2 separate regions of the Homo sapiens genome follow, and region 2 is reported to be linked to region 1. Evidence: microRNA targets listed by miRTarBase, many of them from high-throughput screens and not tested one by one. Region 1 holds a microRNA gene; the other region holds the end of a gene's coding sequence.

The links. Region 1 holds the annotated microRNA hsa-miR-2113 (AUUUGUGCUUGGCUCUGUCAC, at 2,018-2,038, shown strand). A microRNA usually pairs through its seed, bases 2 to 8, with sites in the 3' UTR of a target mRNA and lowers its output. Matches are read on the target gene's strand: a 7mer-m8 pairs with bases 2 to 8, a 7mer-A1 pairs with bases 2 to 7 and ends in A, and an 8mer does both.
Region 2: the mRNA of ZMIZ2 is a reported target of hsa-miR-2113. The part of its 3' UTR that is shown has no 7-base or 8-base seed match.

Annotation. Positions count from the first base shown.
Region 1 is chr6:98,022,569-98,025,679 of GRCh38, forward strand. It overlaps MIR2113 (microRNA 2113), which reads left to right and starts at 1,963; the gene lies at 1,963-2,053.
Region 2 is chr7:44,767,174-44,770,284 of GRCh38, reverse strand. ZMIZ2 (zinc finger MIZ-type containing 2) reads right to left here. Exons shown (of 19, transcript NM_031449.4): 19 at 404-2,769. The coding sequence ends at 2,662. Among named protein-coding and RNA genes, the nearest start is that of ZMIZ2, 20 kb to the right of the region's middle. RefSeq lists enhancers at 1,801-1,940, 1,775-2,301.

The DNA of each region.
Region 1 (3,111 bases):
GAGCCTCTTACTATTATTTACCTTATCAGCTTTTGCTTTCTGAAATCAATGGAAGGGCATCAAGTTCAGCTAATCCATATTTCTGAGTATGAAATTGAATTTATAGTCTGTAGTATGTTGACTACCGCTCGCATTTAAGGCATAATTGATTTTTATTGAAAAGCCAGCAGGCACATCAAAAATTTCCACAAACCACAAGGATGTTAAATTTTACCCTGTTTAGATAATAGTGTGGCTTTATTTATCCTTTAAAATGAAGGTTTTATATTTATATCAGCAAATGCTATGGAAGTGTGACTGATACCTTACGAAACCATCAATCCATGGTTCTGTAAAACTGTATGCACAGAAATAAGCAACTTTATATTTCTAAGGTAAATGTCTATGGTTGGTTTGTTTTAAGGATAAATGGATAAATGGAATAATAAATCTAGCATCATATCATGTCATGTGCAAAGTTATTTTTCCGTTGAAACAACAGCTTTCACCATTATTTCTTTTCTTTCCCATATTCCTTCTGCATCTCCTTTTTTCCTCTGCTTTACAAATTATATTTTTTTGTGCATGTCTGGATAAATGGTTTATGTGTATAGAATGTAATTCCTAAGAAAAAGTCTATTCTTCTATTTTAAAGTTAAGTAGTCAAACATATCATGTGTGATACTCCATTAAGTAAGTTTCACTCAAATGTTCCTAATACATGTGCTAAGTTCATTTATTTTTAACTAAAAGTTATGATGAGAAGACTCTTTTGAGTGTTGCTGCCACAAATATGTAAATTCAATGTCAGTTGCATGATGGATTTTTTAAAGTGAAGCTCTGCCTCACTTTAGTAAAGGGAAAACGAAATAAAAACAAAAAGGTACAGGTACCATTATTTGTTATAATTCTCCTTCTTTGTAATCTTATCACAGTGATTCTCACGGAGTGGGAGGAGTATCACACCCTAAAGAAAACCTTGGAAACTTGCAGGGATGTATTAGGTTTTTATAAAAATTGCATGGTGTGGAGCCAGGGCCACCACTGACTCCTGGGTGGAGTCAAGGGATGATAGACATTTGCAGCTTGCTTGCGGGAGGCTCTCATTGAAAAACTCTCCTATGCTCACAGAACTTTTGAGTATCCTATCAGACATTCATGTGGTTGAAAAACCTATGTAATATTATCCACACTTTGATTTTATTTTCATTTACATGGAATTAGAAGATTTTTTACATTGTTTAATATGTAATGAACTTTTCAGAAATCAAACTCTCTCATAAATTAATTGGAAATTGTTATTTCGAAGTTTACCAATTGTTGTTCATTGATGGCAACTCTATGGTGTTTGCTGCATCAATACAACAATCTTACTTTAGTTTGCATTAGTGGCTGATGCCTTTGCAAATTTATCATGATTCTGTGCACATGTATCAGCACTTGACTTCATGTCTTCATTATGTGGCAGTGCTAGAATATTTACATTTCAAAATATATACTATTTTATTAATATTACAAAGTTGTTTCTTTTTATTTCTTTTATTTTATAGTTGGGGCATTGTATTGACTTTTTCTATGATATTCTTGAAGTGGTTATAATATCTATGAATTTCATTTTGTTATAGTAAACGGGTTACAAAGTATTTGTTATAAAAAGGAGGAACTGGATCAGATAAAGTTGAGAACAATTGCCTCACGGCATCAAGACATGAATGCATTAGTTGAAAATTCTTCAGTGATAAATCCAGAGATTATTTTAATAGAACAATTATTTCCAATGAGGAAAATAGTATCTCAGGGATTTTTAAATATGCAGTGATAAGCCCTTAGTGCCTACTTTCTTATGTGTATGGATGAAGAGTGTTCAAAACAATTTGTCATATGCACAGAAATACAAAAGATGAAACCTAAAGAGATTATACATTAGTCTCTTAAGAGTAAAACTGACGGAGAGAAGCAGTATACCTTTCACAGAGGCAGATATTTTCAAAGCAATGTGTGACAGGTACAGGGACAAATCCCGTTAATAAGTAAGAGGATTTGTGCTTGGCTCTGTCACATGCCACTTTGAAAACCTACCCTCAAACTGTCTATAAATTTTCATGCCCATCTTTTTCTCCTTACTCTTTCCAGAGCATCTGATTGTTTTTGTTCACCAGTGTTTTTTTTCTCCTGCTTTATCTCATGGCATCCTTTAATAATTTTTAAGAGTTTTGTATATGTACTATGATTTTGTGGCTATGTTATTGTTAACAAAATATTTGCTGCATCCATTCATTTTCACTGGCCATCAACTGCTTCATTATAGGAGATTTGTTTACCTCTTATGACTTCCGAATATGTAAAAAAAAAATCACAGAAATTGAGGAGAGAAGTAACATTTATTATGTTGGTTAGTTTTTCCTTTTAATATGTAGTTAGGTTTTTTTAAGGAAAAAGAATATACACTATCTGGAAAGAAAAAGAGGTTTTTCTTTTTAGTTGTGAATTTTTGAAAACCCAATTATTAAGCCTAGAGGTCTTTAACTTTTATAAAATGGACTCAAAACAAATTTCAATCCTAAAGACTGATGGGCCACCTCTGTTTCTTATTTTGGTGCCTCATCACATGTGAGTTTGCTGATATTAGAAGAGGGACACAAGTATTTGGTAGAACATCTTCTGGTCTCTAAGTTGGTCCTGGTTTGATGCAGCACTCTTTTTCACCCTGCCAAAGATGATTTGCTCCCTGGAAGTAAATATTTATTAACTTGCTGTCAAAGTGAATATGGAAATTTTGCTAGTAGGAATTATATTCTTACTTTAAATTTCTATATTATTTTAAGAGGATGCATTAATGAAAAAACATAGTCCATGAAATGTGTTCTAATGTAGGCAGTTCCAAATAAAAATCATTTCTCTATGGAATTTCTGTTTTTCTCTCTCAAGAACACTAATGGTGCCTACAACCTATTGAATAGGAAGTGTTTTCCAGAGGACTAGCAATATACATCTGACATCATTTTCTTTGCGCATCTAAGTATAGACCTAGGCTGTCCTTCCACAGAATCCAACAGCTGGATAAAAAGTAAAAAACAAAGCAGATCTGCCAGATGGTTTATCTACATTAAATCTAACATCTGTATATTTTTT
Region 2 (3,111 bases), not on the chromosome of region 1:
TTTCTGGTTTTATTCCATTGTGATTGGAGAAGGTGGTTTGCAGGATTCCGATCTCTAATTTACTGAGACTTGCTTTGTGCACTAACGTGTGGTCTGTCCTGGAGAACGTTCCCTGTGCACTTAGAAACGTGTGTTCTGCTGCTATTGGGTGGAGCACTGTTAAGTCTGGTCAGCCTTTTGGTTTTTATGTAATACTTGGCACATTCACAAGAAAATGTGTGAAACAGAAAGTACGACAAAGTGAAACCCACGAAGCCACCACTGACCCTGAGGTTCAAAACCTCCAGCATCTCTGCTCTTCCCTAAGCACAGCTCCGTCCCCTCCCCACGGGTGAGCACTGTGTTGTACTGACTCCCTGCCCTCCCTGATGACTTTAGCACCTGGGTATGAATTCCACACATATTTGGTTTTGAGCTTTATAAAAATGGCATCATACTGTATGAACTGTCTTGCTTTTTCATCCCACGTTGTTTCTGAGAGGTGTTTGTGATGGAGCACAGGGCCACGGTGCCCATGCATTCCTCAATCATTTCTCCAGTCTTCTGAGGATGGGCTTCTGGGTTGTTTGCAGCCTTTTGCTTGTCCCAGTCTCCTAGTTTCTCCACTCCATCCGGGAGCATCACGTTTGCAACAGGCAGGGCAGGTGGTGCATCAGATGTCCAGGACACAGTCATTTGACACCCAAGAAAGGAGGGCCTGGGGCCTGCATCAGGCCATGGCTGAGTGGGACTTTGCCAGGCTGTCTCCGCACCCAGCGACAGGACTGTGCGTGCTGCTGCTTCTTTTGTTTCCTCCACTTCTGTTCCCTCATCCAGAGAGGGCGGAAGAGCTGGAAACAGAGGCTTTGTCAGGGAATAAGGAAGCCCACCTGTGTGGTCCCAAATGTCGCAGGGGCAACGCTCACACCAGATACCTCCCTCCTCCTCCTCCCTGCAGCCTCTGGGCTCCCACAGACAGATGCCCTCCTCTAGTGCCTCCAGGGGCAGGCCTTGGCCGCCAGCCTGAGGATGCCCAGCGCTCCCCTCCTCCCCTAGGTTCCTGTGTTCCCCCAGTTCTTGCCTCTCCTGCTGGCTGGCTGGGAAGGCCCTCAAGGATGGGGCCCAGGACTGGAGGAAATGGTGACCCGGACCCCCACCAAGCTGGACAGGCAGATGGTAGGCAGGACACACCTCTGCAATCTCTGGGAAGTGACAAGCAGAGGCCTCCCAGGGACAAGAGCTGAGAAGGATGAGCCCCTGGCTGGGCTGGGGCTGCCAAACAACTGTCTCAGTGCCCCAGGGCAAGCCCAGATAAGGTGACATAGTGGCAAATGTCTCTCCTGGGCAAGCCTGGGATGCTTCACAAAACAGCTCTTCAGCTGAAGCCAACTTGGAAAATTCCAGGGAAAAGGAAATTTACTATGGGGCGGGAATAGCCGAGCCTTGGCTTGAAACATCCAGAGCTCAACCTGGGGCCCCAAAAGCCACTTGAAGGTCGACCTGGCCCCCAGGTCCTGCACAAGCTTTGCAGGCACAGCCCAAGCTTTAGGCAGGTCGCTGGCTTACGAGGAGAAAATAGTCCCTGGGAGCACAAAGGAGGGACTCGGCCAGGCCCACCAAGAGGGAGTCCTTTAATAGAGATCGGCACAGACAGGAGACACAACAGCCCAGGCGCCCTGCTCGCACAGGCTGGGGCCCTGAGCCAACAGATGCAGTGGCTTCCTCCTCCCCCACCTGGGTGTGGGCCCATGGGGTGGAGACAGAGAGGTGGCTTTAAAAAACACAGCTGTACTAATTCTTCACTTTCACAGAGAAGGGGAACTTGGGAGCGCAGCCCGCTAGAGAATCTTTACACAGAGCTGAATCTGAGAGCCCACCCACCCACCTCGGCCAGGCCGAAGCTCACTGTCCCCCACCCATTGGAGGTTCCTCCCTGATCTGTCTGCACATGGGAAGGAGCAGAGCGCGCAGGGAGACCGGGCTGTACAACAGGAACATGCTGGCTGGACAGCTGGCTCCCCTCTCCCAGCTGTTAGTGTTTCTACACTATGTACATTGTTGTGCTTTGTAGCTCCCCCACCCCGAGGCCTCTGCTTGAAGCTGGGGTGGGGAGAGGAACCTGACACCACACACGGCTGGGCTGCCAGAGCTCCAGGCCCCCAAGAGGCTGCCATTCAGCGAGGTTCCAAGAGCTGGACTGCTGGGCACAGGGGCCACTGGAGCCAAAGGCCCAGGGGACAGAGCCAGCCCTGCCAGATGCCCAGCTCTGCCCAGTGGAGGAGTTGTTGAAACAGAAGGATCAATGCTGGACAAGAAGCAGGCTGGGTGGGGGCAGGCAGGGGTGGAAGGACAAGGTGTGAGGCTGTGAGACCAGGGGCGTGAGATGTGTGTGTGGACAAGGCTGGACAGGGCTGGGCAGGGGCACCTCAGCAAAAACCGTTCTGCAGCAGCAGGCTTGGCAGAGGGAGGTGGCAAGGGCTGCCGGCCTGGGAGCCCCTCCCATCGAGCACAGGGCTGCTTCCAATTCAGGGGCAGGGCTGGCGGCAGAAGGCTCTGGCTCCAGGTGTGTTTTGGGGGAGGTTTGGGAAAGACCACCGGGTGTCCCATGGGGCTGGGCATGAAGGGCAGGGCTGTGGTGACATCTGTGAGCGTGTCCCCGCCGGGCTTGGGGTAAACACAGGATCAGTTGTTCTCAAACAGAGAAAGCAGGTCGTCATTGTTGTTCGTAGGGAGGTCGGGTGGGCCCAAGTAGGACAGTAGCTCATCAGGGTTGGTCAGTTCCGGGAGCAGCTGAGGACAAAGTGAACTCTGTTAGCAGCTTTGGTCACTGACTGGCCACACCTGAGTGACCATCCTGTCACCACATCCCGGCCCTGTCTCCAGGCACAGTGGGGATGCTGAGCAGCCCCTCCTCACACACAGGCCGGGTGCGGGGCCCCACCATAGGCCTGCATGTGCTCAAAGAGGCACACGCCACCCCCTGGGACCTCCCTGCAAGGTTGCTCTGGGGCCAGAACAGCTGGCAACATGCTGTTCAATACCACCAGGAAACGGGATGTGAGGGAGTGCAGCCACTCCACACTCCCTCTGTGCATCAGCCTGCGTGGGGATCCCCACCGTGATGCCCCAAGG